Linked DNA regions of Homo sapiens: all the other regions are reported to be linked to region 1. Evidence: microRNA targets listed by miRTarBase, many of them from high-throughput screens and not tested one by one. Region 1 holds a microRNA gene; each other region holds the end of a gene's coding sequence.
Evidence for each region. Region 1 holds the annotated microRNA hsa-miR-6812-5p (AUGGGGUGAGAUGGGGAGGAGCAGC, at 2,180-2,204, shown strand). A microRNA usually pairs through its seed, bases 2 to 8, with sites in the 3' UTR of a target mRNA and lowers its output. Matches are read on the target gene's strand: a 7mer-m8 pairs with bases 2 to 8, a 7mer-A1 pairs with bases 2 to 7 and ends in A, and an 8mer does both.

Region 2: miRTarBase lists MICAL2 as a target of hsa-miR-6812-5p. The part of its 3' UTR that is shown has no 7-base or 8-base seed match.
Region 3: the mRNA of NUP42 is a reported target of hsa-miR-6812-5p. The part of its 3' UTR that is shown has no 7-base or 8-base seed match.

The regions. Positions count from the first base shown.
Region 1 is chr20:45,423,336-45,427,485 of GRCh38, forward strand. MIR6812 (microRNA 6812) reads left to right here and starts at 2,175; the gene lies at 2,175-2,238. It overlaps PIGT (phosphatidylinositol glycan anchor biosynthesis class T), which reads left to right. Exons shown (of 12, transcript NM_015937.6): 10 at 881-1,046; 11 at 1,161-1,244; 12 at 2,239-2,906. The coding sequence ends at 2,491. It overlaps LOC105372631 (a long non-coding RNA gene), which reads left to right and starts at 4,087. Exons shown (of 4, transcript NR_159957.1): 1 at 4,087-4,150.
Region 2 is chr11:12,262,081-12,266,080 of GRCh38, reverse strand. MICAL2 (microtubule associated monooxygenase, calponin and LIM domain containing 2) reads right to left here. Exons shown (of 28, transcript NM_001282663.2): 27 at 3,544-3,601; 28 at 2,296-2,521. The coding sequence ends at 3,561. Among named protein-coding and RNA genes, the nearest start is that of MIR6124, 100 kb to the right of the region's middle.
Region 3 is chr7:23,199,946-23,203,945 of GRCh38, reverse strand. It overlaps NUP42 (nucleoporin 42), which reads right to left. Exons shown (of 7, transcript NM_007342.3): 7 at 2,940-3,778. The coding sequence ends at 3,201. Among named protein-coding and RNA genes, the nearest start is that of NUP42, 20 kb to the right of the region's middle.

The DNA.
Region 1 (4,150 bases):
TTAAAATAAATTGTTTTTAATTAGCTGGGGGTGGTGTTGCACGCCTGTAGTCCCAGCTACTCAAGAGGCTGAGGTGGGAGGATCACTTGAACCCAGGAGGTCAAGGCTATAGTGAGCCATGATCATACTATTGCACTTCAGCATGGGCGACAGTGTGAGACCCTGTCACGAAAAAAAAAAAAGTTTCTTTTTCTTTAAAATTACTAGACTATTCTTAGAGCAGTTTTAGGTTTACAGAAAAACTGAGCACAAAGCACAGAGTTCCCATATACTCCCTGTCTCCACACCCAGAATGTCCCTTATTATAAATGTCTTGTCTTTGGTGTGGTACTCTTCAGTCTCTCTTCATCTGTAGCAGTGCCCATGCCTTTTTTTTTTTTTTTTAATGTCATTTATTTGTTGAAGAAACTGGGTCATTTGTTGTGTAGAATGTTCCACATTCTGGGTTTGTCCTTGTGCTAGTGTTTAACACACCCCTCCTCTCCTATATTTCTTGTGTGTTGGTGGTTAGATTTAGAAACCTGATTAGATTCATGTCCCACATTTTTGGCAAGAAAAATTCCCAGGTGGTTCTGTGAACTTCTTCTTGCGTCACATCAGGCACTTGGTGTCTGGTGCCCCAGTTGTAGTGATGTGAAGATTGATTAGCCATCTGCAGCACTCCTAACAACCTCTCTTGATCGCATCCTGGGATCACTGCCCTGGAAACATCCTCTCCCTTTTCTTAGCCCCTGCTTTCTTCCCTTGCCTGCCTGGCTTCTATGCTCCCAAGCCCATCTTCTAGGCACCCAGATTGAGGCTCCATGGCAAGCAGCAGGGACAGGGGCAGCAGGTAGCCTGACCCCAGGAAAGAGATGTGGGTGACCTTGCATGTCTCCAGGTTACATCCACTACCAGCCTGCCCAGGACCGGCTGCAACCCCACCTCCTGGAGATGCTGATTCAGCTGCCGGCCAACTCAGTCACCAAGGTTTCCATCCAGTTTGAGCGGGCGCTGCTGAAGTGGACCGAGTACACGCCAGATCCTAACCATGGCTTCTATGTCAGGTGGGCTCCACCCCCACAGGCCACCTCTCATCCCCCTGACCTACCCTTTCTGCTGCTTACCCCTTGATAGGGCAGCCAGATGGGAACACGGGCCATCTCTCTGCTTCTCTGTAGCCCATCTGTCCTCAGCGCCCTTGTGCCCAGCATGGTAGCAGCCAAGCCAGTGGACTGGGAAGAGAGTCCCCTCTTCAACAGCCTGTAAGTGTGACCACACTCACTGATAACACATCCTCAGCTGCCTGCTGGGCCTTAACACAGGTGACCAGGCTCCTGCAGGGGAGTTCAGGGTAGATGTTACATCTTCCAAAGAGATGTGTAGATTTAATTCAATCCTAATAAAAATCCTGGCAGTCTGTGGAATTTGTGAAGACTTTATAAAATGATTTTAAAGTGCTTCTAGAAGAATACTTTTACTTACAGCCTACATTTACTTCTTGATGCTCTTAAATATTTAATCAAGCACTTATCAAATGCCAAGTGCTTCTGAGAGCACTGAGTGTGCAAGATTAAACAAAACAGACTTGGCCCTGGCCTCCCTTTGCTTACAGTCTAGAAGGAAGATTCTGGTCTAGAGAGTAATGGGGTTAGAGGTTGGGTAGGAATTGATTTACTGGGTTATCTAGGAAGGCTTCATTTAGGAGGTGGCATTTAGGCTGAAACCAGGCTAAGAAAGAAGCAACCAAGCAAAGGCGGGGCCCCTTTCCTCCACCTCAACACCAGGCGTCTCTCTTTCTTTCCTTTCTCTCTCTTTCTTTCTTTCTCTTTCTTTCTTTCTTTCTTTCTTTCTTTCTTTCTTTCTTTCTTTCTTTCTTTCTTTCTTTCTTTCTCTTTCTTTCTTTCTTATTTATTTTTTATTTTACTTTAAGTTCTGGGATACATGTGCAGAACATACAGGTTTGTTACATAGGTATATATGTGCCACGGTGGTTTGCCGTACCCATCAACCCATCATCTAGGTTTTAAGCCCCGCATGCATTAGGTATTTGTCCTAATGCTCTCCCTCCCCTTGCCCCCCGCCCGCCGCTCCCCTTTATCAGGTTTAGAGATTGAGCTATGCCTTCTGTTGAAAGGTTTTGAGCCTAAGAGAACATTGGAAACACTGTGTTGCATTGCCCAATACTGCCGGAATGAGGATGGGGTGAGATGGGGAGGAGCAGCCAGTCCTGTCTCACCGCTCTTCCCCTGACCCCAGGTTCCCAGTCTCTGATGGCTCTAACTACTTTGTGCGGCTCTACACGGAGCCGCTGCTGGTGAACCTGCCGACACCGGACTTCAGCATGCCCTACAACGTGATCTGCCTCACGTGCACTGTGGTGGCCGTGTGCTATGGCTCCTTCTACAATCTCCTCACCCGAACCTTCCACATCGAGGAGCCCCGCACAGGTGGCCTGGCCAAGCGGCTGGCCAACCTTATCCGGCGCGCCCGAGGTGTCCCCCCACTCTGATTCTTGCCCTTTCCAGCAGCTGCAGCTGCCGTTTCTCTCTGGGGAGGGGAGCCCAAGGGCTGTTTCTGCCACTTGCTCTCCTCAGAGTTGGCTTTTGAACCAAAGTGCCCTGGACCAGGTCAGGGCCTACAGCTGTGTTGTCCAGTACAGGAGCCACGAGCCAAATGTGGCATTTGAATTTGAATTAACTTAGAAATTCATTTCCTCACCTGTAGTGGCCACCTCTATATTGAGGTGCTCAATAAGCAAAAGTGGTCGGTGGCTGCTGTATTGGACAGCACAGAAAAAGATTTCCATCACCACAGAAAGGTCGGCTGGCAGCACTGGCCAAGGTGATGGGGTGTGCTACACAGTGTATGTCACTGTGTAGTGGATGGAGTTTACTGTTTGTGGAATAAAAACGGCTGTTTCCGTGGTTCTTTGCCTCTTGTCCTTGAGTCCTGGGAAGAGCTGGGGACTGGGGATTGTTTGCTGAGTGCCTGAACAGGACCTCCTACCCTATGCCTGCAACCCCCTCCACAAAAAACAAAAAACCCTACCTCCTCCCACCTGGCCGGAAATTTCTTCTCCTGATCTGCTCCCCCTGTCCTCCCCATCCCCATCTGATTGTGATTCCCAGAACTCCCCGGGTTGTTTGGGAGTGTTTCTGAAAGCATAATCCATGGCCATGGAAATGAATCATCCTACTTCTTGGGGGCATTGAGAGTCAGTCCACATCAGCAAGGGTAGAGTGGAGAGGTGGGAGGGCTCTGGGTGGTGGGTCTCTAACTGTAGTGTGCATCAGAGTCACTGGGGGCACTTGTGAAAATAATGTATGTTCCTGGGGTCCAGATCCTACTAATTCAGTTGGTCTGGGTGTGGCCCAGACTTTGACTTTTTAGCAGGCTTCTCAGGAGCTCCTGCTGTGCTCTGTCCTCAGACCACCCCCAGGCTTTGAAGCCAGGCTCATTGGATTGAAGCCCGCCCCGCCCACCTCCCTTGCTGGTTACATAACCCTGGATTTCTGTAAAACAAGCCTTTAGGCGGTTGCCTCCCACTGCCCTCATCTTCTGTCTTTTCCTCTGGCACACTTGGCATCAACTGTGTGTTATTTGCAGTTCCCCCCACCTCCTACCCCACTCAGTTCTCCCATCATAGTGGTTTGGCCTAGAATGCCCTATTCCACCAACCATGCACACCTCTCAACTGCCTGGTTCCCTCATAAAACCAGATGAGGCTGGCCGGGCACGGTGTCTCATGCCTGTAATCCCAGCACTTTGGGAAGCCAAGGTGGGCAGATCACAAGGTCAAGAGATCGAGACCATCCTGGCCAACATGGTGAAACCCCGTCTCTACTAAAAATACAAAAAAAAATTAGCTGGGCATAGTGGCGCGCGCCTGTAGTCCCAGCTACTCGGTAGGCTGAGGCAGGAGAATCGCTTGAACCTGGGAGGCAGAGGTTGCAGTGAGCCAAGATTGCGCCACTGTACTCCAGCCTGGTGACAGAGTGAGACTCTGTCTCAAACACACACACACACACACACACCCCAGATGAGAAGTTGCTGCCTCCGGGAAGTTTCCCTTGACGTGTCCGTGCCCCACGCCTTTGCTTCCAGATTGCCTTGGACTTAACACGTGTTCCTTATCAGCTGGCTGCTGTCCTTTGACTTCCACCAGATG
Region 2 (4,000 bases), not on the chromosome of region 1:
GAGTGCAGTGGCATGATCTCAGCTCACTGCAACCTCTGCCTCCTGGGTTCAAGTGATTCTCGTGCCTCAGCCTCCCAAGTAGCTGGAATTAAAGGCATGTGCCACCGTGCCCAGCTAATTTTTTTTTAGTAGAGACAGGGTTTTGTCGTGTTGGTCAGGCTGGTCACGAACTCCTGACCTCAAGTGATCTGCCCGCCTCAGCCTCCCAAAGTGCTGGGATTACAGGTGTGAGCTACCGCACCTGGCCCATGTGCACCATAATTAATTTACTTCCTTTAAAAACCAAGTAGGAATACTTTTGTAAATGCTTGCTTTTTCTTTTTAGTGTTTACTTTTAAAATTTGCTTAAGGGTAAATTGCCTGTTCATAGCCTTTGCCTATTTATCATTGACTCTTTAATCAACAAATATTAACTGATCATCTACACTATGAGAGGTGCCCAGGAACATCTGTTTTAAATGAACCTTGAAAATACCATGCAATGAACTTCTTTGTTATTACATTTAGTTCATATTTTTCCCTAGTCTAATGGTCTATTTAATATTTTATTACTCTACATTAAGTTTTAAAAATGTATATAATCAGATTTGTGTCATGTTTTCCCTGTGTGGTGTTCTTCCTATTAGAGGATTTATGCTTAGAAGGTTATCACCCCATATCTAATCAATACTTAATTCCATTTAATATTTAATTATATGGTTTTCCTTTTAAAATTCTAAGTCTTTAATCCAATATCTCTGAATTAAACACTAGTCTACCAAAACTATGTATGTAGAATGCAATATTCAAAAAAAGCAAACCAAAACAAAAACAAAATGTTCACATAAGTATGGGACAGCTGACTTTCACAAAGTTGATTAAACTTCCCTACAAGGATGCCTCAGAGACTTGACATGCTAATGAATCTTGCTAGTCTCCAGGACGGGGGAGGACTGGCAAGATCAGTACAAAATATTCCTCAAATGTTGTGATCATGGACTCCTTTGTTGGTGAAGCACCACTTGGGGTGTCACGCTTTGACAATAAAGTGACGATTTTTGTCTGCTTTACTCCCTGCTGTATTCCTAGTACATAGTAGATGCTCAGGAAATATCACAGAGTTGAGCAAACAAATGAGCACATGCACAGTTAAATATAACAGATCTCATCTAGTACAGCAATACTGAGCCACATCTCTAAGGTGCAGGGAGGTGTGGGGACTTCGCATGGTTCCCTGCTGTACCTAGGGCTTAGAATAAGGCCTAGGACAAACATTTGCTGAATAAATGAATGCATAAAGGAATGAGTCACTTGCACAGCCCAGCACCTGACTTACAGTCCCTAACATCCCTCCTTAAATGGAAGTGGGAATATATCACCCAGGTAAGAGTACAGAACCCTTGGTCATGACCTGAGGCAGCTCTGAAGGTAGATCCAGGCATCAGAGACCAGAGCCTCAGGAACACCCATTTGGAGGTGCCAGGGACCTCATGAGGTTCACAGGTGACTTTTCATACCACTGTCAGAAGCCCAGCTACGCCCAGCTACGCCCAGCCAGGAAATGGCAGGCATCCCACCCAGGGGAGGCTGAGGACCAGATGACTTTGGCACTGCCCAGGATAGCCAAGTGAGGCTCCAAATCTTTCCCTTAAACACAGCCTGGAGTTGCCTGGGGCCTGCCATGAATACTATACTTCGGGTGGTGCTAGGGCAGGGCCTCACACCATAGATACTGAATACCCTGAGCCTTTGGGACAGGAGAGGTCTCTTAGGATGGCAGTGGCTCTCCATCTGATGAGCACACTGCCAACTTCATTGCCATCCTAATATTGATGCCCAGTCCTTCCTACTTACCTTCCACTTGCCACTCAGCTGTGCACCAGCGTGAAGTGTTCCAGACCAACCTTTGCTGAATAGGAACCTAAATTAGTGTAAGGTTCATGGGGAAAGCTCTCCTGTAGAGCCACGCTTGGGTGTGCGGGGGAAACGGGTAAAGGTAGCCATCAATACAGTCTGCTTCTAATCGCTGAGGGGACACTGACCCTCACCCACTATGCCCAGCATCTAGAACAGCAAAGTACAATGAGTGTTCAAGAAAGAGATCCCAAAGCCTAGCCCAGGAGCATTGGTGACAGTTTCCAAATATTACCCAGGGGTAATATTTCCTTTCAGAGTGCCCAGCGCAGCCCCAGAGAGTCCTGTGTTACCTCAAGTGCAAGTCCCGCCAGCAGTTTAGGGAAAATGAACCCCCTACACCAATCCCTGTGTGTGAGGTTTTAGAAGCTTCCACGGCAAAGAAGAGAGGAAACAATGAGCTTTATAAAGAACAATATTTATTTCCATTTACAGCATCAAATACCATAAATAAAGCTAAACATTGTTTGTTTTGCTGTGTGCAAAATACAGGGTTCCGTGTGGCACTGTAAATGATTACCAAAGGTCACAGACATGCGTTGTGATGAGATGGGGAGGCTAGCTAAAGAGGAGGCTGAGAGGGGAGGAGGGCACTCTTTGGTTGACATTCTATAAAGGGAGGGAGACTCTGTAAGAGAAGATAAGACAAGAGCAACGACTTTGTACTGGCCAGGATCTGCACAAATACAGTGAGCGTGCAGCATGCAGGGCCAGGCAGGCAGGCCCGGGGGTCAGGGTGGTCTGGGCCACATGCAGGACAGACGCCCACCGCAGCCTGAGACCGCGAGTGTTGCCTAGGACAGCTCCACGGTGCTTGGTGTGTTGTTTCTCGTTAAGAGTGTGTTGGTGATTATCCTGCTGCCCCAGGTACAAGAGTCAGCAGAAATGTGTGCTTTAAGCAGAGTCACAGGGGCCTGGGGCTGAACTGAGTCATTTCTCAAAGATATCCCTGCCTGGGATGATGATGGCTCTAATTGAAGCTCTGGCATCATCTGGGGCTTTATGAGCCAAGGGAGATAAGAAGAGCCACAGCAAAACCCTTGGGTCTACAGTGCAGGCTGCAACCAAGGCAGCATTTGCTAGAATATTTGTGATTATGTGTTCAACCTACAGAGCATGTGTCAAGCTTGGGATGAGGCCTGAGAGTAATTAAGTTTTTTAAATCCCTCCAAATAATCACCTATGGTTTTGATAAATGACATTAACAATCTTTACATTAGAGCCAATTTAAGAAGGCGCTGGTATGTATGAGCTTTTTGAGGCTGCTCAAAAAGTGTTCTTTTCAAAGGTGACAGAGGCCCCCTCATGGTATTGTTTCATGATCAAGGTCGACCCTCCCAAGAAAGTAGGTAGCTTCGCAGACGCAACTGGAGAAGCATGCACGCAGGCAGACCCAAGGGAGAGAGGAGAGGCGGGGCATGCACTTGGGGTAGACCAGGCTGCCAGCTCCATGGGAAATGAACACAGGCATGGGTCTCAAGCTGAACACCCCCCGCCATGCTGTTAGCCAACCATGCCACCAAATGAGTCCATCAGTATGCAAGACACTCACAGTTAGTGCAACCAGTACTGCTGGCGGAGAGGACGGGGTGCGGAAAGCGGGTTGGGGGTTAGTACCACTCTTTGAAAATTGGCAAGAAAACCAGTCACCTTAGAGCAGAAGTGTGTCAGCCAAGAAGTGGGTGTAGCACTGGAAGGCTGAAATGAACTGATGGCCATGGCGTAAGATTGGAAAGAGAGAGAAAGATAGAAAAGAGAGCTTAGTGTGGGGAAAAAAGGAAATGATTAACATCACGAGAAGGCACCGGAGTTGAAAATAAGGCCACGATTGAAAGAGGGAAACTTCCTCTGAAAGAGTCGCTGTTTGCTTAGGAGAGATGAACCTTTCTGGTTGTGACCAGCTACTTGTTTACGAGAGTGGATGCACACAGTTTGCATCTTGCTCCCTGATATCCTCTCTGCCCCCATTTTACTCTAGCGTCTCCCATTCATTCTTGAATATGTTGCGGAGGCCTAGAGGCATTCATCCTCGGGGGTCCACCCCTGGGTGTCGGTGCTGCCCACCAGAAAGGTTCAACATCTCAGAGCGTACAAACATCTCAGATTT
Region 3 (4,000 bases), not on the chromosome of region 1:
CAGAATGCTTAGGACATTGTCTGGCACATAGCAAAAACTCACTAAAATTTGAGCTATTATTGTTAAGTTTTAGCCTCCCCCCCATTAATATATTCTTTCTCTCCAAATTGGATCACACTGTACATGCTCTTTTTATAGCAAACTCTCGTCCACTGATTGCAGAATGAAAACATTTCCAAGTTATTCTCTATTAAGTCATTTAGAAAGGCTGTTTAGTATTCCAATGTATGTATCTACCACAATTAAATCATTGTTTGATGCTTCAAGTTGAATTATTTTACTCATGAATAATACTGCATAGCTAAATCATTTTATACCTTTTAGTTTTAATATCAGCTCACTTTCTCTCCCCTTTTAATCAGCTCTCAGCTGTTACCATTCTCCCCTTCTAATCTGTGATCAGATAATCAATCGAGTTAAATCAGTTTATTTGCTATACCTTATCTACAATTCTGTCACTTGCTCTAGACCTTAGGTGAAAAGGACAGCTATTACAGCAGCTGTGAAGGCAGGCTATTTTTGCCTATTTTAGGGTATGCCTCTTAGTTAGTCCAGCTCTGCTAGTCTCACTGGATATGAGATTAGGAGATACCATCCAGAAGATGCTGGCACATCCTTTTGTTGTGGGTGCCTTTTCCCTTCTACTACCTCCCTCTTGGGGTCTGAACACTCAACCTACCTTTATACCCAGCTGCTGCCACCTCATTGTTACCTGTTTCTGATTTTCTGAAGCCGCGATGCCCCTTAGCCTAGGTCTGGGAGTTACCAGTTTTCTTGACTTCTGACACCAGTATGTATGCATGGTGCTAGTTTCTACTTTGTGGGCCTCTCTGCTTTAGTTTCTCAAAATTTTTTAGTAGCCTGTAGCACTTATTTGTGCTTTTTAAAAAACTTCGGATCCTGTTAAATTCCCACATTTTTGTCTATATGGGAGCACAGAAAACAGACTTCAACAATTAAAACTCCCAAATCAGGTATTACTAAGTAGCCTAAATCCAGCTGGATAGTCCTGTTTCCCAAACTTGCCTGAAGGACCACAAGGAATACCTGTTGACATATTCCCAAGCCCATCCCAATGGGCAGCTCCTGTAATTTGGATATGTTATCTGGATATATTATTTAACACCCCAGGTGATTCCTATAATCAGGCACAGTTGGAAACAATGGGCTTTTAACTAGGATTTTCTGAGATCTTCCAGGACACTGGGAAGTTCAACTGAGACCTCAGGGAGCTTGTATGCAATTTAGAGGTAGTGTAGGGGTCATCCCGGGGGGGGGGGGGGCGGGGCAGGAAAATTCTAGGATTCAAGTATTAGTTCGAATACTGGAAAGTCTGTAGAGCTTGAGACCAAAGAAGGAATTTATGCTCTTTTTGTTTTAATCTTGCTCCTTCTAAAGGAACTTATGCTCTATTTACCATCTCTACACCAGCATGGTTTCAAATATATATCCCCTGGTTATAGTATAGATTCTGTACCAAACACTGGGGTTCCAGAACTGTCAGATGAGTCATGCAGCTCCTCAAAAAGTGTAATGGAGCCAGGCATGGTGGCTCATGCCTGTAATCCCAGAAATCTGGGAGGCTGAGGCAAGCGGATCATGAGGTCAGGAGATCAAGACCATCCTGGCTAACATGGTGAAACCCCGTCTCTACTAAAAATACAAAAAAATTAGCCGGGCGTGGTGGTGGGCGCCTGTGGTCCCAGCTACTCAGGAGGCTGAGGCAGGAGAATGGCGTGAACCCAGGAGGCGGAGCTTGCAGTGAGCCGAGATCGCGCCACTGCACTCCAGCCTGGGCGACAGAGTGAGACTCCGTCTCAACAACAATAACAACAACAACAACAAGAACAACAACAAAAGTGTAATGGAGAATGCAGGTCTTTTGAGGACTGAATCCTTTGCATACGTTAAAATCATTTGGAGGGCATATCTTTTATTATGTAAGGTTTTATATTCACTTAGAAAAATCAGCTGAATGCCAGAACCGTGTTAGTAACTGCTCTGGCAGTGCTAGCTATGCAATTTTTGAGGACTGAGAAAGCGCAGAAGTCTGATATACCTGCTTCAACTCGTGACAGGCATTTAGTTTCTTGGATCATCCATATGTAAAATATAAATCTTACTCCCTCAATCTGAGGACACAGGGAGATCCAAACATGCACAATAATTCTTTTTTTGTTGGGGGAGGGCAGGAAAGGGGATGGAGTATCGCTCTGTCACCCAGGCTGGAGGGCAGTGGTGTGATCTCAGCTCACTGCAACCTCTGCCTCCCGGGTTCAAGTGATTCTCCTGCCTCAGCCACCTGAGTAGCTGGGATTACAGGTGCCCGCCACCACACCCAGCTTATTTTTTGTATTTTTAGTAGAGATAGGGTTTCACCATGTTGGCCAGGCTGGTCTCGAACTCTCCTGACCTCAAGTGATCTGCCCGCTTCAGCCTCCCAAAGTGCTGGGATTACAGGTGTGAGCTACTGTACCTGGCCATGCCTGAGAAGATCTAGAAACAGAAACTGGTGAATCCTGACCCCACTACACACATTATTTATTCACATGAGATCACAATTTGTTTCTCTTACAACTCATCCATTTGACAGACTAATGTGATGAATAAATAGAATTCTATAAAAGTGAGGCCAAAATAAAAAGCAGCCTAAGATTGTTGAAGAAAACTCAAATGGTGGTCCACGAGACCGCCAAAGTTGAGAGGGAACCAAACTTATCGGGGGGGAAATGCCCCTATGGTTCTAAAACTAAAAGCTTGTCACTCTTTACAAACTGATTTATCTCTTTGAGAGAATCCTGAACATGAAGTCATGCTACTAATGTTTACTCTAAAAGTAGGTTAAATATTTGAGCATGTTCCCCCTAATAATTACAGAAATTATCTCCTTCCTAAAAAAAAAAGTTTAAAACTTTAAATTGTGAGACAGTAAAGTGGTATGGCATGAGAAAAGTACTTTATTCGTGCATAATTTTTCAGTTCCATTCAAAATTACAGTACAAAAAAATTCCCTTGCTTGCAGAGTTTTTGTTACTTTTTACTTAAATATTTAGAGTTAAGAAAAAAATCAAATTTAAAATCACTATTGATGGAAGCTTATATTCCTTATGAATATATACATGTATGCATATATACATCTCTGTATGAATCACTCAAAGCAATTTTAAACATCATTCTTTTTTGTATTTAAAATTGCCCTTTTAAACATTTAGAAGTTCCAGAGGTGGAGGCTTTAATGGAATTTTTCCCAGAGTAAATTTCTTGGATTGAAATTGTTCCAGTTCTTCTACTGTTAGTTTATCTCTGGGTGTGAATAACACATTATCTGTTGCAATGATGCTGCTTGAGGCTGACAGAGAAGTGGATATGCTGCTATTTCCAAAAGTGTCACTGGATGGCTTAGAAAAAGCAGTGTGAGAATGTGAGCCCGGACTACCAAAACCAGCCACAGAACTGCCACCTCCAAAGGCTGGGGCCACTGGAGCTCTGACAGGACCTGTTGCCAAGGAAGCTGGAAGTCCTGAAAATCCAGGTGATCCAAAACTGGAAGCTGCAGGGCTTTTGAATGAAAATGATGCAGCCGATGTGACTTCAGGCTTCCCAAATCCAAAAGCTGGAGCAGAAGTAGAGATACCTGAACTGGTAGAGGCTGCAGCTCCAAATGCTGGGGAACTCCCAAAACCAGCAGGGCTTCCAGAAGAGGCAGCAGCAAATCCAGAGTTTGTTTTAAAACTAAAGTTCTGAGCATTATCACTGCTGCTGTTATTGACTGGAAAGCCTACAAACAACAACAACAACAAAAAAAACAACAAAAATCTATTACGGTCAGAAAAATGTCACAATTATTTCCTCCCCCTATCTTTTTTTCTTATTTATGTCATGTTTCAGTGTTGAGAAGCTTACTGGACGGACGAGATGAGGAAAGTAAAAATGAGAGGCTAGAACTACCCACTAAAGCCTGCTGCCTGTCTTTTCTGCTAACAATCCCATTTTCACCTTG